Linked DNA regions of Homo sapiens. The protein of the gene in region 2 interacts with the protein of the main gene of each other region in a pairwise test. Each region holds a gene or a part of one and is shown on either strand. Other genes may lie near its edges. The genes, in order: CXCR1, CLDND1 and ZDHHC4.

What was found.
Region 1: the proteins of CLDND1 (region 2) and CXCR1 interact in binary tests that used the Homo sapiens proteins (3 or more experiments, as listed by UniProt).
Region 3: the proteins of CLDND1 (region 2) and ZDHHC4 interact in binary tests that used the Homo sapiens proteins (3 or more experiments, as listed by UniProt).

The regions. Positions count from the first base shown.
Region 1 is NC_000002.12:218,163,959-218,170,923, reverse strand, and holds the start of CXCR1 (C-X-C chemokine receptor type 1), read left to right. Parts: upstream 1-3,961; 5' UTR 3,962-4,016; intron 4,017-5,679; 5' UTR 5,680-5,712; coding exon 5,713-6,765; 3' UTR 6,766-6,965. UniProt on the Homo sapiens protein: Receptor to interleukin-8, which is a powerful neutrophils chemotactic factor. Binding of IL-8 to the receptor causes activation of neutrophils. This response is mediated via a G-protein that activates a phosphatidylinositol-calcium second messenger system.
Region 2 is NC_000003.12:98,519,818-98,527,601, forward strand, and holds the start of CLDND1 (claudin domain-containing protein 1), read right to left. Parts: upstream 3,086-7,784; 5' UTR 3,039-3,085; coding exon of another isoform or gene 3,032-3,038; exon of another isoform or gene 2,725-3,031; intron 1,887-2,724; exon of another isoform or gene 1,880-1,886; coding exon of another isoform or gene 1,836-1,879; intron 1,626-1,835; coding exon of another isoform or gene 1,608-1,625; coding exon 1,316-1,607; intron 1-1,315. UniProt on the Homo sapiens protein: Plays a role in negatively regulating the permeability of cells to small molecules.
Region 3 is NC_000007.14:6,573,030-6,580,553, reverse strand, and holds the start of ZDHHC4 (palmitoyltransferase ZDHHC4), read right to left. Parts: upstream 3,101-7,524; 5' UTR 3,056-3,100; exon of another isoform or gene 2,834-3,055; intron 2,677-2,833; exon of another isoform or gene 2,582-2,676; intron 2,054-2,581; exon of another isoform or gene 1,989-2,053; 5' UTR 1,891-1,988; coding exon of another isoform or gene 1,834-1,890; exon of another isoform or gene 1,808-1,833; intron 1-1,807. UniProt on the Homo sapiens protein: Palmitoyltransferase that catalyzes the addition of palmitate onto protein substrates including the D(2) dopamine receptor DRD2, GSK3B or MAVS.

The DNA.
Region 1 (6,965 bases), on a different chromosome or scaffold from region 2:
GCTGGGACTATAGGTGTGTGCTAGTACATCCAGATAATTAAAACATTTTTGTAGAGATGGGTGTCACTACGTTGCCCAGGCTCACTTTATTTATTTATTTAGAGACAGGATCTCACTTCATCACCCAGGCTGGAGTGCAGTGGTGTGATCATAGCTCATTGTAGCCTTGACCTTTCTGGCTTAAGTGATCCTCCTGCCTCACCCTCCCTAATAGCTGGGACTACAGGCACACACCACCATGCCCAGCTAATTTTTACTTTTACTTTTTATTTTTAGAGAGATAGGTCTTGCTATGTTGCCCAGGCTTGTCTTGAACTCCTGAACTCAAGCAATCCTCCCACATTGGCCTCTCAAAGTGTTGGGATTACAGGCATAAGCCACCATGCCTGGCCTATTTATTTATTTGTTAATTTTTTTAAAAAAAATTGAGATTGCAGGAAATAATTTTTAAATTTAATTTTAGTTTTAAAACGGAGATTGCAGGAAACAAATATGCTCACTTTTCAAGGTCCTTCTCTGGCTTCCTCTGGAGACTGGAGATCAGGGCTGGGAGGTCTGCACCTGGCTAGGTCACGTGTCTGTCAATGCCCCTGTATCTTTACCACTGCAGCCTTGACCCAGTGTCTCACTGACACTACTCCCTGCTCCTCTCATCCTAGACCACATTTGGTTTCCAGAACTCTCACAGTTGGGCATGTTTTGGTTGCTGGTAACAGAAAAGTCAACTTAAACTGGTCTTAACAATAAAGACAATTTATTGGCTCATGGAACCGAAGAAAGTACAGAGAGAAGATGGCCTCTGGGCATGGTTTGTTCAGGACTCTTGGTCTGTTTCTCTGATTCTCTCAACTCTGCCTTCTTCTGTGTGTTGGTTTTTTCCTTGGACTGTTTTTGCCATTTATGGTAGCAAAATGGCTGCTGACTGCAACAAGACTATATACTTGCTTTTCCACATTCATTGAGCAAACATCTGAACTTTGCTCTGACTGGATCATCTTGGGTCACAGACTCACTCCCTGAGCCTGTTGCTGTGGTTACGAGGACGTCACTGGGGAGAGAGGAGAAACCTCCCTCTACCCCTTTCCTCTACTTTGATCCCAGATCCAAGTGGATTCTTCTGGAGGAATGAGAAGAGATGCTGAAGCTGGCATAAGGCTGATGCAGGGACAAAATAGATGTTCTTACAGCCACATTGTGCTGTTCACATGGTCTGTGCAGAAGTCATCATGTTTAAAACAGAGTGGTAAGAAGATGTCACCCAAAGAGATACTACATTTTGCCAGTTGACTGGCATTCGGGCTGCACCTGTCACAGCTTTCTTTGTGGCATTAGGAGCTCTACATGGAATGGAAAAATGCTTCTCAGCAGGAACATTCTAGGCCATTTTAAGAGGGCACAGTTATAAGTGGGAAGTGAGGTATAGAAGATAGGTTGGGTGGGCTGACTTGCTGGAACATTTTGAAGTGGGTAAAATTTTATTCTAAACTCATCTATATGTGCTTTCTCCCTCCTTCAGTGAAATGCTCGTCCTACTGCGAAGTGAAAGGTTCTTTCCACCCTTGTCCTCCAGATGCAACTTCTCCTGGAGACCCCAGCATTGCTGTTGCCCTCACCACACTCATGCAGCAGGGCTGCTCCCCTTCACTCCTCGGGCTCCAGGAGACCAGCCTCTTCCCTAACCCCTCAGTGATTCCTTGAAATAGACTGGAATAGTGAACCGACTTACTGAGGGTTTAGGAAAAGCAGAAGGGAACTATACACCAAGAAGAACTTAACATACGGTGTTAAATATACCTGCTCTTGGCCCTGGTCTTTCTCAAGGGGGTGTCTCACAGGGGATTCCCTGTCTAGCAACTGCTGCCCCCTTGTGGCAAAAACTATCCTTCTCCCGGCCTCAGGGTCTTTCTTGAGTATAGGCAGGTGTTTTGCAGTCTAGGCCCCCGTCTTTTTTCTCCTGTGTCCCCAGTGACTATTTTCTGCCCTTGGGGCTGATTTTCCCTAGATGATTAATAGAGGGAGTCTCCCACCTCCTGGGACTACCCCATCTTTGACTCCTTTCTAGTCTAGGCGTTAGAGCACAATAGTCCAACATCAGTAAAAGCAAAGCATGAGTGGCTATTGTCCCCTTACACTTCCTGTTACCATCTATGAATGATAAAAGAGCCCAGGAGGAAAGCACAACTTAGCTTAAAAAATAGGCTTGCCGGCTGGGCATGGTGGCTTATGCCTGTAATCCCAGTGCTTTGGGAGGCAAAGGCAGGAGGATCACTAGAGGCTAGGAGTTCAAGATAAGCCTGGGCAGTATATCAGGACCCTTTCTCTACAAATAAATAAATAACTAAATAAAAAATAAAAATAAAAATATAATATAAAAAAAGAAAGCCAGATGTAGTGGCTCTTGCCTGTAGTCCCAGCTATTCAGGAGGTTGAGGTGGGAGGATTGCTTGAGCCCAGGCATTTGAGGTTACACTGAGCTATGATCACACCACTGCATTCTAGCCTTGGCAACACAGTGAGAGCCTGTCTCTTAAAAAAAGAAAAAAATTCTTTCCAGTGCAGAACTGTAGGAATCCATGGCATGGTAAATTTGGCATTTGTGGTAGGGCAGGATTTATACTTGCACAGACTGGCATTAGCTCCAAACATTAGAGGAAGGTTGGAAAGAAGCAATGCCAGGCAGACCAACTGGGCTGTGTGGAAGTGAAGCTATCAGGCATACCAGTGACTTTAGTGTGTAGCCAAAAGCAATAGACACTGAATCGTGGTGGTGACTTATGGTCCATGAATCACAGGAGAAATGTCTCCCTTCATTTATTCCACAACCATTGATTGAGCACCTACTATATTCCCTGAAAGAGAACATAAACATGAATTGAAGAAGGTTCTTGCTGTCTCATGGCTCCCAAGCTAGAAGAGGGCTGACTTGTAAATGCCTCACAGCAGGGTTCATGTTATATGGAGAAGTGACGAAGGTGCCAGAAGACTCAAGCTAGGGGACAGCCATTAGCTGCTGGAGGCAGCTAAGGTGGGTTCCCAGAGAAGCCATTCTCCGTTACTGAGATGGGGGCTGCAGTGACCTTGACCACAGCTCTTCCATTCATGGACTGCCCCAGCTCTGTGGTCTCTCTGCTAACCAGCCAGACTCTGGGAGTGGCCTATGCCGTCAGCCTCAGGGCCATTTAAACCAACTGGTCATTGGCAGTGATTGTGCGAAAGAGTGGCTGGCGGCAAAGGAGGGTTTGTGTTCCATTCAAATACCCTCAAAAAGCCTGAAAAATAAGTAGAGATTGAGGCCAGGCCTTGGAGTTGTGGAAGGTGGAGAACACTGGGAAGCCAACCTCCAAAGAAGACCAGGTTGGAGGCAAAGGAGGAAGGGGAGCTCTCGTTGGCAAACCAACAGGGAAGCCAAGGATATCCCAGTAACTGCTCTCACATCCTTGATGAGAATGCCTTGAATCCGAGCTAGGCCACCTCAAAGAAGCCTGCAAAATAAGTAGAGATTGAGTGCCTGCTGTTCAAACACAACTCAAGCGCAGTCCTCCTCCTCTTTCCCACTGGATTGCCCCCAAGTCCCTCCTATGGGGGACTCCTTCTGAAGTCTCTGCTGTAAGTCAAATCCTTCGCCCTTTATACTTGGTCAGGAAGTTGCAAGCTTCCACAGGTGATATACTAGGGAATTTAGGAATAAACAAATGGAAATAAATTCAAGAAAAGGAAAATAATAAAAATGATCATCCATAGAGTGGAGAATTCAGATAATGGACCCTCAACCCCAGCTTCACACCTGGGACCCCCACTTGGTCATATGGACCCTGGCAGTCTCTAATCACAAGTCTGTGATCCCTTGACTTAAACTGTTCTTCCCCAAATGTAGACATGGGTGGGGCTCAGAAGGGAGGTGTCATCTGATGTGGTTTCCTTATTTCCGTTTATTCATCAAGTGCCCTCTAGCTGTTAAGTCACTCTGATCTCTGACTGCAGCTCCTACTGTTGGACACACCTGGCCGGTGCTTCAGGTAGGAAGCCACCTCTGTTTGCTAGGACTTTCTGTGGGGTAGGGCTGCTTGGCTTGACTTTATTTTGGAAAATGTATTCATTTCTGTGGGAGCTGAGGATTTCTGCTGCCCGCTTCCTCTCTTGTGACCACCACTCATACATGGAGTTAGCAGGTGAAGAGGACAGCCTCCTCATCCCCTCTTTTTATACCTTGCCCTTTTGTGGGAAGAGGCTGACCATTCCCCAATTTGATGTTTATTGCTTCACCTTAAGACTTTGTCTTCAGTGAAAATGCAAATACTGGTAGGGAGGGAACACACTAAAATGTGTGGATCTGAGTGGACTCATCATACACCCTCAGGCCTGGCAGCAAATGAGAGGTGGATGATTCTGTCTTCCTCGATTTGCAGATGAGAAGACTGAAATCTATAGGGGTACGAGACCCCACTCAAGGTCATGAGACTTATTTATTTATTTATTTATTTATTTTGAGATGGAGTCTCACTCTGTCGCCTAGGCTGTAGTACTGTGGCACGATCTCGGCTCACTGCAACCTCCATTTCCCGGGTTCAAGTGATTCTCCTGCCTCAGCCTCCTGAGTAGTTGGGATTACAGGTGCACGCCACCACACCCAGCTAATTTTTTTGTATTTTTAGTAGAGACGGGGTTTCATCATTTTGGTCAGGCTGGTCTCGAACTCCTGACTTCATGATCTGCCTGCCTTGGCCTCCCAAAGGGCTGGGATTACACACGAAACTTATTAATGGTAGAATCAGGATGGAATGAAGACTGGATGCTAGGTGTCTTTACAACCAACCTCGGTGACTTTCCAAAGGCTTTCAGACTTCTCTGGAGAGTCCTGGAGCTTTGAGGGGCTCTTTAGGGGCCATCTGGGTTCGGAGATTAGCACACTCTGCCCCACAGTGGCTCAGCTTTTATCTGCTTCACATACTGGGCTTCTGGGAAGATCTTATTTCAGTAAACTATTTCACAATAGGAAATATATTTGAAAACTCTTGAATGATTCTGTGGATTTTTTCAGGGGTGGAGGGTTTCAGGGACCAAGATGGAGACTTTATCTTCTCAAATACTTAAAACTCCTTTAGACAGAGGAACAAAATATGTGCTCCTCATTTAAAGAAGGCTTAAAATATACAGTTTAATGCAATGTGTTGTTATCACTTCCTTCCCCCAGTAGATTTTAAGGAGGGTAAACAAGAATCAGGGAGAACATAGGAATAGAAATAGTAGAAGGGGACACCTGGGAACAGGTTTGCCTTCTTGCATTTTGCTTAATGCTGGCCCTTCCCTGAATGTCTAAGACCAACCTGGTCCCCACATCCAAATGCACAGACACAGCTGAGGATGGAGAAGGCTAAAGAGGGACAGAGGTAGAGACATAGGCTGAGAGGAGGCAGTTGTAGGTTGAGCTAGGGCTAAGGTGTTTTCCCCATATTCCATCTTACCCCACACTCAGGCCAGGCCTTAGAGTTGTGGAAGGTGGAGAACACTGGGAAGCCAACCTCCGAAGAAGACCAGGTTGGAGTCAAAGGAGGAAGGAGAGCTCTCATTGCCAAACCAACAGGGAAGCCAAGGATATCCCAGTAACTGCTCTCACATCATTGATGAGAATGCCTTGAATCCGAGCTACTAAATCACATTTCCTTCCTTCTAACCTTCCAGTTAGATCAAACCATTGCTGAAACTGAAGAGGACATGTCAAATATTACAGATCCACAGATGTGGGATTTTGATGATCTAAATTTCACTGGCATGCCACCTGCAGATGAAGATTACAGCCCCTGTATGCTAGAAACTGAGACACTCAACAAGTATGTTGTGATCATCGCCTATGCCCTAGTGTTCCTGCTGAGCCTGCTGGGAAACTCCCTGGTGATGCTGGTCATCTTATACAGCAGGGTCGGCCGCTCCGTCACTGATGTCTACCTGCTGAACCTGGCCTTGGCCGACCTACTCTTTGCCCTGACCTTGCCCATCTGGGCCGCCTCCAAGGTGAATGGCTGGATTTTTGGCACATTCCTGTGCAAGGTGGTCTCACTCCTGAAGGAAGTCAACTTCTACAGTGGCATCCTGCTGTTGGCCTGCATCAGTGTGGACCGTTACCTGGCCATTGTCCATGCCACACGCACACTGACCCAGAAGCGTCACTTGGTCAAGTTTGTTTGTCTTGGCTGCTGGGGACTGTCTATGAATCTGTCCCTGCCCTTCTTCCTTTTCCGCCAGGCTTACCATCCAAACAATTCCAGTCCAGTTTGCTATGAGGTCCTGGGAAATGACACAGCAAAATGGCGGATGGTGTTGCGGATCCTGCCTCACACCTTTGGCTTCATCGTGCCGCTGTTTGTCATGCTGTTCTGCTATGGATTCACCCTGCGTACACTGTTTAAGGCCCACATGGGGCAGAAGCACCGAGCCATGAGGGTCATCTTTGCTGTCGTCCTCATCTTCCTGCTTTGCTGGCTGCCCTACAACCTGGTCCTGCTGGCAGACACCCTCATGAGGACCCAGGTGATCCAGGAGAGCTGTGAGCGCCGCAACAACATCGGCCGGGCCCTGGATGCCACTGAGATTCTGGGATTTCTCCATAGCTGCCTCAACCCCATCATCTACGCCTTCATCGGCCAAAATTTTCGCCATGGATTCCTCAAGATCCTGGCTATGCATGGCCTGGTCAGCAAGGAGTTCTTGGCACGTCATCGTGTTACCTCCTACACTTCTTCGTCTGTCAATGTCTCTTCCAACCTCTGAAAACCATCGATGAAGGAATATCTCTTCTCAGAAGGAAAGAATAACCAACACCCTGAGGTTGTGTGTGGAAGGTGATCTGGCTCTGGACAGGCACTATCTGGGTTTTGGGGGGACGCTATAGGATGTGGGGAAGTTAGGAACTGGTGTCTTCAGGGGCCACACCAACCTTCTGAGGAGCTGTTGAGGTACCTCCAAGGACC
Region 2 (7,784 bases):
CAACCTAAATGACTTCCTCCCCATTTACCCATATGGCCAACTCTTTTGTCTAGTCTTTAACTACATTCTTTACTCAAGTGGTGTCTTCTCAATGAGACCTACTTTAAGTATCCTATTGAAAATCATAACCTATGGCCACCAATATTCCTTTTCCCACATATTTCCAAATCCCTTTTGTGTTCTATTTTGCCATAGCACATGTCATCTTTTAACATACTGAATAATTATTTATTCTGTTTATACTGTTATATTCTGTTCACTGCCTGTCATCCTTTATTAGAATGCTAGCTCCCCAGGAGTAAGGATTTTGTTCTTTCCTGATGTTCTCCCAGCTAAGAGGCCCTGGAACATGGAGACATGCAATAAATTATTTGTTTAATGAATGACTAAATGGTAACACTCCAATTCCAACTCCAATTTCAATATCAAGTGCTCCTGTAACCTCATAAGTCAAACTGAACATTTTACAATGAATTTTAACCAACTTTCTCTCCTTTCCTTCCAAATTATCTTTTTTTCCAGATACAGTGACATATTATCATCCTTTTGATATATCATAACTCAAGCCTGTTCTGCTATGATTTGAATACAATGCTTCCCCACTAAGGGGCCAACAGAAGTAGTCATAAATAAACTGTAAAGTTGTTCCTTACAAAGAGTTCTAAAGCTACCATTTTAATAACTGGAAATCAAAATCTTTAAGTGTTAAATAAGAATGCCTGTAAAATAAACCTAAAAATCTAGTTTTTGGTTTTTTTTTTTTAACTTCTGTAATACAAATTTCTTAACCTACCAACTCTGCATCAAGATTGTTGTAAAACAGTCTCATAATTACACAGATTAAATGTAGAGCTGGTCAAATTATATCCTCTAAGACACAGGGGCAAATGATAGATATGTATTATAATACAGCTAACCCATAAAAGGACAATTTTTTGAGTTGATTTTCGATGGTAGTCCTTTTACTAGTTACCAAATATTTTTAAAAGTCTTTCGATGTACTTTTCCAACTATTTCTTTATAACATGTGTTAGAGTAATGAAAAGTATTTTAATGAGTGAGTAAATAAGAAAAAAAAAAGCCATTAAGGCTTTCCCAAGATAAGAAAAGTTCCTCATCCAACCAATATTGATGAGTACCATGGTAATGCAAAGAAGTTGGGGAGAGAAGGCAGTAGAAAGAGAAGATACACGATTTATTTCTTTAAGGAGAGAGAGAACCAACAAACCTGCTTACATGTAATTGGGCAATCATTACGTCGTTTTGTCTATTATTAACCAGGTGAAGAAGACAGAAGTTAAAATAAGAGAAATACCTGTCCTTTCTGGTGGGCTATACCAATGCATGTTTTTGGGTATGGTGATACACCGTCTCCACAATCCCACTGTGCCATTGTATCGAAAAAGTGCATCATTATAAGTCTTTTCATCTGCCTCATCACTAATGAATTCATCCCAGATGCTTTTATTCAAATCACTGGAATTTTCTTGAACTGGACTTCGATATTCATACCAGAAGTCTGTGCCAATGGAGGCTGCCATGTAGATGGTGGAAATGAGGCTAAGCACACAAGCAATTACAAATGCTGTAGCAAAACGGTTATCCATTCTGGCATTCAGACTGCTCTGTTTAGAAGTTGAAGAAAGAAGATAAGTTAGAGTTTACGGACAAATAAGAAAGATTATTTTGAATTATTCCAAATGCACCCTTTACCCAATTCCCCATCCCTTCGTACATATAACCATTAAGAATTTTTTTTAGAAAGCAAGCATGTTTTTAATTAAGCTTAAAACAAAACTCATTCTCATAAAAGTACTTATTGAATGCTCACATACCCAGGATGCTACGGAGACAGAGGTCTTGTTCTCTAGTCTATCACCTGCATACTAAAACAGACAACACTGAAATGGACATACACATTACAGATACAAACAATAGACATGCCCATGGTCAGCAGTGTACCGTGCACACATTTTAAATTACAGACTGAATTTTTGCACGAGCTGCAGAGGATTAAGTGTTCTGGGTTTGAGTGTTAAAAAGGCACAGGAAAAAGAAGCAGTGGAAATTGGCTTCTCCCAGTTTCCTCTGAAGAGGGAAGCCTCCTAAAACAAAGGTAAGAGTCAGGAGCCATACAGAAAACAGAGTTGAAGATGTTTGTTAACCCCGAGGGAAAGGTTGTTCTAGGTGTATAAAATAGCAAAGAGAACAATAACATGTAATAATGCTAGATAGCAATCTCTCCCTAATCCATTAAAGCTAAGCCAAGCTTCTTTACGCTGCCAAATGCTTCACTCCTATCTACTCTCCCGATTCCTTATACTTCTGAACCTCCTCAACAGAAATCTTGCTCTCTCCCTAAATCCTCAGTGCAACATACGTCCGCAAAAACTAAATGATCCCTCCTCAGCCAGACAGAAAACTCTCAACATATCAACACTCCCAAGGCGTGGACAGGGCTCAACGGCAGTAGTAAATGGCCGCGGTAAAATGACTCAAGGCAGATCGCGCTGAGTCAAATACTACACGGCAAGTATACACCGTGACCGCACCAAACACCTTACAAAGGTTCATGAAAACAGACTCGCAAACTGGGGTTGCTGAGTTTGGAAAATGGGAAGTGACTCAGGAAAGATAAGAGCAATGACAACGAAAACTCAAAAAGTTGGATTTGTATTTTGATTTTTTAAAAATCCCCCCTTCATCCTGGTGCTCTCAAATGACCTTAAAGGGTCCCAGCACTGGGAACGGCGGTTCGTCCAAGCCGGACGCCTGCAGCAGCCACCTCCTGGGCCTCACGGCGGGGCCGGAGAAGGCCAGGGCTGGGGCGGGGCAGCCGTGCTCGGCCCCGGGCCAGGGTCCCCCGGTACCCGACCAGGCCCCGCCCTAGAGGGCTCGGCCCTGGGACAAATCCGCCGCTCGGAACCCGCCCAGCCCGACCACGCCCGGGAAGGGGGCCCCTCTTCAAACCGCCGGGAACATGGAACCGCGACGCGACCCCTGCCCGGCGACGCAGGTCCCGCTCACTCACCGCCCATCCTCCTGCTCCGCCAGCTTCACCCTCTAGCTCAGACCACAGCACCCTACTCTCCCCGCGCCTCCTCTGACGCACTTCCCTGCAGAGCCCGCCCCCTCCATAACTCCCGCGCCTCCGCCCGCCCCCACTCCGGGCCGGGCCGCGGCCCGGGGCCGAGGGGCCTTGTGGGAGTTGTAGGAGGGACAGACTGAAAGCTGTCTGAGGCGGCGATAGGCATTCCTGGCGCCGCGCGCGGCGCATTGTGGGAGATGTAGTTCAGCTCCTCAGGGCAAGCCGGTACGCAGAAGGGAAGTCTAGGCTGTTGGATTCTTGCATTTTAGGGAGGAAGGGAGAATGGTCCAGAAAGTAAAGCGGGCCTGTTTCCGGTCATCTCGAGTCAATGACCGTGACTTGTATAACTTAGATCTGACTTTTAGGCCTGTGCTTTCCCTATCACACCACCCTGCCTCTAGATCTAAGTATAAATGAACAAAAATGGGATTCTACTTGTGAAACGTTGACCCATTTTATTTCCCTCTCCCAGAATCCCTCCCATTGGAGCAGAGCATCCTTCTGGTTTTATTGCATAAGTTTAGGCTAAGAAGTATGTGACCTGGCAGACAGTATCCATCAAGAATGTAATGATATTATTTGGGTTTCATAAAATGTGTTTGTAGCTGCCTTCTTTTTATGACAAGTGATACTAGTTTTCTATTGCAGCAATGTTGTTCCTTTTAAATTCTTTTCACTTATTTTAAAAACTATTAAGTTAATAATACTGAGGATACCAGATATGTCAAAAAATGAATAAAAAATTGTGGGTATAGTAGGAAAAAGACTGAAATTTGGGGAACATCACTCAAGCAGATAAGGTCATGGACAGCATTGGAGATTGCAGATGATGTGTGGCACAGGGGCAACAATGATTCTGAACCCTCAGGTTTAACACAGAAATTCATGGACAGGAAGCAGGGACATCTTAACAATAACATGAGTGGAACTATTAACGTGGCCTGGGACCAGCAAATGGTGGATTTCTCAACAGTAACCGACAGAGAAAGCTGACTCAAGGACCAGAGGGGCTCTCAAACCCCCACTCTGTCCCCTAATGCCTTGTAATTTAGCATAGGAGAAAGATGGGAGCTGCAAGTTGATATTAAATTTCTACCACTTTGACAGATTAAAGGCATGATATGTTTCTCTATCTGTACTTACATTTCTTTGACCTGAGTGGGTGAAACTGATATTCATATGCAGCACATAATAAGGTAGTAGCCAAATATATTCAAACATGACTCTGGATTTTCATATACAGCATATAATCAAAAAAAAATTTGTCAGAGGCACCAACTAGAGAAAGTGATGGAGAGGCACAGGCAAATTGTCAATGTGTAGTAAGACACATAAATGCCCTTATACTCCAGGAAATGTCTTCATCCATTGGCCTTCATTAGAAATCCCCTATTTTCCGCCGGGCATGGTGGCTCACGCCTGTAATCCCAGCACTTTGGGAGGCCGAGGCGGCAGATCACGAGGTCGGGAGATCGAGACCATCCTGGCTAACACGGTGAAACCCCGTCTCTACTAAAAATACAAAAAAATTAGCCAGGCGTGTTGGTAGGCGCTTGTGGTCCCAGCTACTTGGGAGGCTGAGGCAGGAGAATGGCATGAACCCGGGAGGCGGAGCTTGCAGTGAGCCAAGATCACGCCACTGCACTCCAGCCTGGGCGACAGAACAAGACTCTGCCTCAAAAAAAGAAATTCCCCACTTTCAGATTTACCTCTCCACTGAGATCATGTGGTCAGTAAACCAGGCAAAAGAGAAGTTTAAAGGAGAGAGAAGAAACAACTTCAGTCTACAGATAAAGGAACTAGAGAGAGTAACTGACTTGGTAGCAAACTTGGATATTAGAGTAACTGACTACCATGGTAACACACTTGAATATACTCATTTTGTGACTTTGGAGAATTAACCTTCTTTAAGTCTCGGTTGTCTTTTCTCCAAAATATGGATGTTGACAGTAGCATCTATCCCACATGATCATTGTGAAGATTGAGAAAAACATATAAAACGCCCAGCACAGGACCTGAGGTTTAGGAAAGAATCATTAAGTTATTAGTATTTGCAAATATTTGTTGAATATAATATTTGAGTAAGCTTAGTGAGAACAGTCTTTTTTTTTTTTTTTTTTTGTATTCTAATACAGTTCAAATCAGTGTGGCTGGTTCATTTCAACTCCTTCACTACCAAACTAGGAGGCAGGGACTGGCTTCAGTTTTTCTGCCTTCTCTTTTTCACTGATGACCAGGGTATAAAGATATCTGCTGCATCGAACTTTAAACTTCACATTGTCCTTATTTTTCTTGATCTTGACAGATTCAGCATCCTTTCATTGGGCTGTGAACAGAAAGTCCTTGATTTCCTCAATTTTCGGAGGCATGGCGACAAGGCACGCAGGGAGCAGGCGCGGACCGGGACAGCGTGCGGCGACCGGGAAAAACAGGACAGAAAAAGACAGACAGCTTTTAAAGCTCCTGGATTAACCCTAGAGGCTACCCCTAAATGGAGATAAGCCATTTATACAGAGAGGTGTTCCTGCTCGCTTCAGCAGGTTTGAGAAGCTCTGGACTAACCACCAAATGACTAGGAAAAATTTGCCAGGGCTAGTATTTTGGGCATCCCTGTTTAACCCTTCTCAGGAGATTCCCAGGCCTGGGATCGTATCATACACAAGTCGCCATGACTCAGGAGGTGGATGTTTCTGGGAAGACCTGCAAAGGAGGATGACACTTGCACCCTTCAAGTCTTCAGAATGCCTAGAAAACACTCAGGACGCATTTCACTGACCAACCTAGTGTGAACCTGGAGGTGTCTCTACGTGTTTGTGGTTTTGATCATCCTGAGAGAGGACCTGAACGGCCTCTTCACACCCAGTTTCACCAACCACACAACCGTATTTCTGGTTTATCTCTGCATCTTTGGTGTTTCCTAATTTCTATTTATGCTTGCTTGTTGTATGAGTAGGTAAAATAAATCCTTAATTAATTAATGGAGCTAAATTTCTACTTCTGCTTCTTACTCTGCTGTTTGAGAAACGGTAGCTAGCCTTATATTTTCACAAATATGAAAGATGATTTTGTGCAACCATGTAGAGATTATGGAATTTAGGTTTAAAAGCGAAGTTAAATGAGACATCTAGCTTAACTTGTTAAAGATGGTTCTAGTTTCAACCGGAAGGCATTATAGTTATAGCACATTTAAAATAAAACCGATAACTGAAAATCTAGATACTCAGATGTTGTAACTTGTTTTTATTATGTACTTATGAAACAACCCTTCACACTAGAATTTCCATCAATACTAAATTCCCCAATACATTTAATATTTTATTTTTAATTGCACATTTTTAGGAACTAAAAGTTATATCTACATTATAAGATATATTTACATTATGTTTCTTCATGTAATTTTTTTTCTGGTTGTTTCCCTTGTGAACTTTGGAGTTCAGAAAGGAAAAAAATGGGAATATGTACAATTCTGGGTTCCAACCAAAAACCATTTTTAAAAATGTACCTATCTTTGAATTTCCTTGCACCCATTCACTGTAGAACAATAACAGAATCAAGATCAAGGCAAATAGAAAAGTGCACCTAAAATGTCTCCTTTTTTTTTTTAGTAATTCCTGTAAAGTGCCACATATAGTAAAAAACTATAATTTTTAGATGCCCATGCTTCTGAAAGACAGTGAATGACCCATATGTAAATGAGAAGTTTAAGTTTAAATTATCCTTTATTTAAAAATTATCAATGGATCTTTGGTTAATGACCCCTTTCTGGACCCTAGGGTCCTCTTTAGTAAAACAGTTGTACTAATGATCATTAACACCACTTGAAGCTCTAAAATTTTACAGTTTATAATTCTACTGGAAGAAGAATAATGCAACTACAAAATACGGTTTTTCATAGATCCACAGCATTAGAGTTTCATTGCAGAATTTATATACCCTATACCTCAAGCCTAGGCAATGTACTAGAAGCAGAGATAGTGGCAAATGTAGATTGCAAAGGAAAAGGAGGAAGACTATATGCATTCTGATTAGAAAAGGTACCGAAAAACAGCCCTTGCTATTTCAAAGATTAACAGTAATTATGAAGGTAAAATTATGGAAGGAAACTTTTCTGATTTCTTCTAATTGACACTTATTAGTATAGAGTTATGAGTATGAATTGTGGGCCTCCCAAAAATAACTTTTCAAAAAAAAATCTTATTGCAGATAAGAAACTAATATAATCAATTAATTTAATTATTAATAAACTTAAGAGTCTTCATTGAGAGAGTCCTCTTCTCATCACTATCCGTCATACTTATTATGAGGCCATGATAATGATATTTTTCACATTTATTGGTTTGCAAGTTGCTTCTGATTCAACAAGATGTGCCAAGTGAAAACATAAGCATAAGTTGACAAAAAATGTGCTGCATTAACTTAGAAACATCTCTTCATATTAGTTTATGATGTGACAAAGATCCCAGGACTGAATAGAAAATGGAAGCTGTCTAAGAAGTTTGTGAAAAGTCCCTACTCTGCGGAAATAACTCAAAATTCAAGCATGATTCATCCCAGATCTATAATCATTTATTGACCATCTATTGCTTGCCAGACACTCTGCTGGATGCCAAGGACACCAACATAAATAAACATAATTTTTGTTATGCACAACCTAAATTCAGATTAAATCTGCTATTTCGAAGAAATCTAAAGTATA
Region 3 (7,524 bases), on a different chromosome or scaffold from region 2:
TACAAAGGAACAGAAAGAGTGTGACTATCTGCTACTGAAAGGTTTCTTCCATGGCACACATTCTCAGACATCAACTCCCAAATGGCTACCAAAACAGAATTCATCTAGACTTTAATGACATCTCAAAGCAAAAAGCAGAAAGACAAACAGAACAGAATTCACCAATTCTTAGGCACACATAACAGAGGCCTGCTGCCTCTCAGTGGGGCCTCCAAAATGGTCCTGAGCTCCCTCAATCAAGATAAAAATTCTGGGCCAGGTGCAGTGGCTCATGCCTGTAATCCCAGCACTCTGGGAAGCAGAGGTGGGTGGATCGCTTGAGCTCAGGAGTTCGAGACCAGCCTGGGCAACATAGTGAGGCCCTGTCTCAATTTAATAAAATAAAAAATAAAAAAAGAAAGATAAACTTTTTTTTTTTGAGACAGAGTTTCACTCTTGTTACCCAGGTTGCAGTGCGGTGGCGTGATCTTGGCTCACTGCAACCTCCGCCTCCCAGGTTCAAGCAATTCTCCTGCCTCAGCCTCCTGAGTAGCTGGGATTATAGGCACGCACCCCATGCCTGGCTAATTTTTGTATTTTTAGTAGAGATGAGGTTTCACCATGTTGGCCAGGCTGGTCTCGAACTCTTGAACTCAGGTGATCCACCTGCCTCGGCCTCCCAAAGTGCTGGGAGTACAGGCGTGAGCCACTGCACCTGCCCAAGATAAAAACTTTGAATCTAACACCCTAAGACTGTGGCCTGCCTTTGAAGCATCTCCAACTTGCAAATCCAAAATAAACCAAGAAAGAACATGCATCCTCCTTCCTTGCCCCCAGGCATGAATCATTCTTTTACTTCCTTAAATATTCACAAAGATACAAGATGTGTCCCCAAAGAATCTGCTGACAATGCCTTGAGAACAAGCATCTCCTAGAGGCAGTCAGGAGCCCTGCACCCAGAATCAGGCATCCTGTCCTAAGAAGCATCCCTCCAGGACACTGGCCACAACCATCAGGAATTACCCTCTGGAACCAGAGTCAACACACAGGCCTGCGTTAAAATACTGGATACTGAGGCCGAGCGTGGTGGCTCATGCCTGTAATCCCAACACTTTGGCATGTCGAGGCAGGCGGATCACGAGGTCAGGAGTTCGAGACCAGTCTGGCCAACATGGTGTAATCCCCATCTATACTAAAAACACAAAAATTAACCGGGCGTGGTGGCACATGCCTGTAATCCCAGCGACTCAGGGGGTGGAGGCAGGAGAATCTCTTGAACCCAGGAAGCGGAGGTTGCAGTGAGCCGAGATCGCGCCACTGCACTCCAGCCTGGGCAACAGAGCGAGACTCCGTTTCAAAAAAAAAAAAAGAAAAGACACTGGATACTGGAACTCTTTTCCATAGTGTAGCGGTTTAAGAAAAAAAAAGAAGAAAAAAAAGGTACTGGAATTGGCCGGCCGTAGTGGCTCGTGCCTGTACTCCCAGCACTTTGGAAGGCTGAGGTGGGAGGATCACTTGAACCCAGGAGTTCAAGACCAGCCTGGGCAACAAAGCGAGACCCCCATCTCTACAAAAAATACAAAAATTAGCCAAGTGTGGTTGCGCATGCCTGTGGAGGCTGAGGCGGGAGGATTGCTTGAGCACAGGAGTTCAAGCCTGGGCGACAGCATGAGACCCTGTCTCAAAAACAAACCAAAAAAGATACCGGAACTGGTCACTTTTGACCTTAGCAGATAAGATTCTGGGCTGTAATGCCAAGTGAGATAACCAAACAAGAAGCTATTCATGACATGATAGGTGAGAGTAAACAAACAGCAGCAATTCTCACGGGGTGATTCAGGGTACCCAGCCTACATTTCTCTTGGTTGGGTAATTTTCAGCCGGCAGCTCTGGCATTCCTCTTCCCAACATTCACAGATAATTCAAACAGCAGCTCCTCTTGGGCAGCAGTGTGTGCCTGGCATGACCAGTAGCTGCCGGACATGGTTCTTCCAGGAGCCTGGATCTGGCTGCAGAGACAGATCAATTCAACACCCACATAAGACGACAAGAGTTGCAGTCAAAGGCAGAATACCTGTGGAAAAGGATTTGGAAGTAGGGGATTTTCAGCACCCCCAGCATGAATGGGTAAGACTTTGGGAGAAATGGCCCAGACTAAGTTGCTTAGGCCTGCTCCCAAATCTTTGGGAGGCCCAGGCAGGAGGATAGCTTGAGGTTAAGAGTTCGAGACCAGCCTGGGCAACACAGTGAGATCACTGTCCCTACATAAAAATTTAAAAATCAGTGGGGCGTGGTGGCCCGCGCCTGTGGTCCCAGCTACTTGGGAGGCTGAGGTGGAAGGATGGCTTGAGCCCAGGAGGTCGAGGCTGCAGTGAGCTGTGATCGTGCCACTGCCTTCCAGCCTGGGCCATAGAGCTGGACCCCATCTCTAAAAACAATAAAAGAGGCCGGGCGCGGTGGCTCACGCCTATAATCCCAGCACTTTGGGAGGCCGAGGCGGGTAGAACACCTGAGGTCAGGAGTTCGAGACCAGCCTGACCAACATGGTGAAATCCGTCTCTACTAAATACAAAAAAAATTAGCTGGGCGTGATGGCGCATGCCTGTAATCCAAGCTACTGGGGAGGCTGAGGCAGAATTGCTTGAATCCGGGAGGCGGAGGGTGCAGTAAGCCGAGATCGCGCCACTGCACTACAGCCTGGGAAACAAGAGCGAAACCCCGTCTCAAAATACAATAATAATAAAGACTTTGTGAGAAACAGCTAGTTGGGAAGAAATAAGCCAAGTCGGTAGCCTTGGGTCTCTCCCCGCCACTCCCCATTAGGGCCTCCCGAAGCCACCCCCATCCAAGGCACCTCCTGGGCGGGCCTGGTCGGAGATTTCCCTGGGGGCTGGAGCCCTGGTAGGGGGACGTGGAGTGCAGCAGGCTCGGAGGGGACACCGGGGCCGCCCCGGACTCGGGCGAGGTGGGGGTGGGACGGCGGCCCTACACACAAGGGGAAAGGGAGGGTCAGAGGAGGAGACTGACGGTCCTGGGACAGCCCAAGCTTCCCACAGCCCCGCGGAGGCGGCCTTACCGCCAGCCGCTGGGCTCCGGCGCCTCCCGGGCGCGATACGAGACTTCCTGCGGGCTCGTGACATCAGCACGGCGCCCCTGAGGGGCTGACTTCCGGCGGAAGTGTGCGAGGGCCGCCGCGGGTTGCGGGGCTGGAGTAACAGTGACCTCCCCGGCGCCCTCGCAGCCAGCCTGGGGACCTCCGTGGCCGGGTGTAACCGCTGGGAAGTGCGATTTTATTTTATTTTATTTTATTTTATTTTATTTTATTTTATTTTATTTTATTTTATTTTATTTATTTTATTTTATTTATTTTATTTTATTTATTTTATTTTATTTATTTTATTTTATTTATTTTATTTTATTTTATTTTATTTTATTTTATTTTATTTTATTTATTTTATTTTATGTATTACCTATTTTCTTATTTACTTATGTATTCGTTCATTCATTCAGAAACAGCCTCGCTCTGTCGCCCAAGCCGGAGTGCAATGGCGCTATCCTAGCACACTACAACCTCCAACTCCTGGGCTCAAGCAATGCCTCCTGCCTCAGCCTCCCAAGTAGCTGGGACCACAGGTGCATGCCACCACACCCGCCTAATTTTTTTTTTTTTTTTTTTTTTTTTGTAGAGACGGGTGTCTCACTATGTTGCCCAAGCTGATCTCGAACTCCCGGGCTCAAGTGATCCTCCCACCTCGGCCTCCCAGAGTGTTGAGATTACAGGCGTGAGTCCCTGCACTGGGCTGGAAGTGGGATTTTAGAGCAGTATTGCCAGGAGACTTACAGGAGGACCGACCTGGGCCTGGTGGGGGCGATCATTCTGGGGCTGTGACAGGGACTAAGCTGCCCTGCGGCCTGCACAGAGACCAGTCATGTCCCTGCTCAGAGCCCAGCAGGGGGATCCAGGTGGCCCAGGGCAGTCACACTTAGGGGGCTCTCAGACTATGTCTGTGTGGTGGACAGAGTTTGCTTTCAGCCACCCACACTGTTGAGATCTAGCAGAACATTTCCAGCATCTTCCGTTGCAGAAGCGGGCAGAAAGCACAATGTGTACCCATCAGTCAGATTCCGCTCCATGTGTGTCCTTGCTCCTGATGACAAGGACATGTTGCTCTGTACAGCCCTAAATATCCTCGGGGCAGTGACAAATACTTGACCACAAACGTTGAGGATAAAAGGGAAGGGTGTTTGATGCTAGGCAGGCTTGGGGTAACAAGAGCTGCTTCCAAACATAGCCCTGAGAAGGCCCTGTGGGGTGTCCTTTGCTCTGACCATCTCTGAATCAGCTGAGGCCAGGGTCTATTCCTGATGCCTCTGAAGACCTGAGCCAGGCCTGTCCTCCTTTGAGGGGAAATGTCTGATCTCCAAACACTGGCCTTAAAGCTCTTCTCTTTTCCTGTCTCTTTGCTACCTACGTCAGCTTCTTGATGCGTTTTCTTTTCCTTTTTATGAAACTCCTTACCAACAGGATGCCTTCTCCTGTGTACATTGTATCCAAGGTCTTCATAAATTTATGGACCCAGAATTGAAAAACCAAGGCTCATACCTATAATTCCAGCACTTCAGGAGGCCGAGGTGGGAGGATCGCTTGAGCCCAGGAGTTTGGGAACAGTCTGGGCAACATATGGAGACCTTGTCTCTACAAAAAATTTAAAAATTAGCCGGGTGTGCTGGCATGCACATGTGGTCCCAGCTACTTAGGAAGCTGAGGTGGGAGGATTGTTTGAGCCCAGGAGGTCAAGGCTGCAGTGCGTTAGGATCACACCACTGCATTCCAGCCTGGACCACAAAACAAGACCCTGGTTCAGAAAAAAAAAAAAAAAAAGATTAATCTCTCAGCACTTGGTCAGTTCCTGAAACCTAGGCATGTTTGATTTTTTGCCTCTTTAAAACATCCAAGCGCAAACCTTGACACCTGCATTTTATAAATAGCATAAGAGAAAACAGACTACTTAAGCTTAAAACCAAAAATTCAAGTGTGATCAAAAGGATTGCCTTGCTTGTGATGCATGGAGCAAAGAATTCCTCTTTGGAGTGTTGCTAAACGCTCCTGTCAGCTCCTGAAACTGGACCTGCAGTATCAGTTTTTTACCTGCTGTGAGATCAGTTGACAGGATCAACCAGCTTTACACCACGATCTCTTGTCCCCAAGGGAATGATGGATGCTATACTTTGGAAATGGGATACAGGACTTCGTAGCTACGCTTGCAAAAGGCATATCACACATGATGCTTGTTTACAATCAGTGATTTATTGACCATGAGGAATTTTGCCATGGAGAAATTAAGAAGAAGGAAAGGAACATAAAAGTATTTTTGAACCATGCATAGTGGCTTATACCGGTAATCCCAACACTTTGGGAGGCTGAGGAGGGCTGATCCCTTGAGACCAGGAGTTTAAGACAAGGCTGAGCAACCTAGTGAGACCTCACCGCTACAAAAAAGTTTTCAATTAGTTAGGTGTGGTGGTGTACACCTGTAGTCTCAGCTACTTGGGGAGGCTGAGGCAGGATGAGGCAGGAAGATTGCTTGAGTCCAGGAATTTGAGACTGCAGTGAACCATGACTGTGCCACTGTATTTCAGCTTGGGCAATAGAGCAAGACCCTGTCTCAAAAAAAAAAAAAAAGAAAAGAAAAGAAAAAAAAAAGGACTGGATCTGTGTTGGCTTACTGTTATATCAGTAGCAACTATTTTAGCACCTAGCTCATAGTAGATGCCCAATAAAAATGTATCAACTGAATGAATGAAAGAAAATGATAACTTATATCAGAAGGAAATCTACATCCTTGATATCACTCAAAAAAAATTCCTGTGGCCAGTAGGTGGGGCCACAGTTGTCACTATTAGCTGGCTTGGAGCATACATTATGGGTGCCCAGTTTACACCCAAATTTCCACTTTGCCTTTGCTACTGTAATTGCTGCCCCGTGCCTTTTTTTTTTTTTTTCTTTTTTTTGAGACAGTCTCGCTCTGTTGCCCAGGCTGGAGTGCAGTGGCGGGATCTCAGCTCACTGCAACCTCTGCCTCCTGGGTTCAAGTGATTCTCCTGCCTCAGCCTCCCGAGTATCTGAGACTGCAGGCATGCGCCACCACACTCAGCTAATTTTTGTATTTTTAGTAAAGACAGGGTTTCGTCGTGTTGGCCAGACTAGCCTTGAACACCTGACCTCAGGTGATCCACCTGCCTCAGCCTCACAAAGTGCTGGGATTACAGGTGTGAGCCACCACGCCCAGCCCTCAAAGTAGATTAAACAACAAAAGAGACATCTTGGTCCCTGCCATTGGAATGTCCAGAAATGATGCTGGCTTCAGGAATGACTTGAACCCGCAGCCCAATGGCATGATCAAGAATCAATGTTCTTTTTATCCCTCACTCTGACTGGAAGATCAGCTTCATCTGAAGACCAGCTTTCCTCCTGATGATGGGATGGCCACCAGCCATAGCTGGGGCTTCATGCATCCACACCCACATCCAGTGAAGGGAGAGTGGGGAGGTCTCCCTCCAGGCCCAAGTAGGAGTACTGACATTCAGTGTGATTAAGCTGGCTTGGGTCATAGACTCACCCCTGAACCATGATGCCACCAGGAAAATGGAATGTGGCCTTTGTCTTGGGTAAAACAAGGCCTCCTGCTGAAGCTACAGAGGATCAGTTTCCCCCAAAGCACATGAGTTGCTCAGGTGAGGGGCTGGATTCTGGAAGGATGTGTGGGCCCTACTGGGAAGGTACATGGATGCTGGCCAGGTAGGCAATCAATCAGTGGACATCTAATAAGTGATATCTGGAATGATGCAAGGAATGTGTCAAAAATGTCTCTTCAAATTAAGATTCTACCCAGGGCCGGGCATGGTGGCTTATGCCTGTAATCCCAGCACTTTGGGAGGCCGAGGAGGGCAGATCACGAGGTCAGGAGATCGAGACCATCCTGGCTAACACGGTGAAACCCCGTCTCTACTAAAAACATAAAAAAAAATTAGCCGGGCGAGGTGGTGGGCGCCTGTAGTCCCAGCTACTGGGGAGGCTGAGGCAGGAGAATGGCGTGAACCTGGGAGGCGGAGCTTGCAGTGAGCTGAGATCAAGCCACTGCACTCCAGCCTGGGCGACAGAGCGAGACTCTGTCTCAAAAAAAAAAAAATTCAACCCAGGGCCGGGTGCGGTGGCTCATGCCTGTAATCCCAGCACTTTTGGAGACCTAGGCGGGTGGATCACCTGAGGTCCAGAGTCCGAGACCACCCTGGCCAACATGGAGAAACCCCGTCTCTACTGAAAACACAAAACATTAGCTGGGTGTGGTGGTGGGTGCTTGTAATCCCAGCTACTCGGGAGGCTGAGGCAGGAGCACCGCTTGAACCCGGGAGGCAGAGGTTGCAGTGAGCAGAGATCACGCCACTGCACTCCAGCCTGGGCAACAGAGTGAGACTCCGTCTCAAAAAAAAAAAAAAAATTCAACCCCCGATGAATGAAGGTGCAAGAGTGAGAACATGAGATGC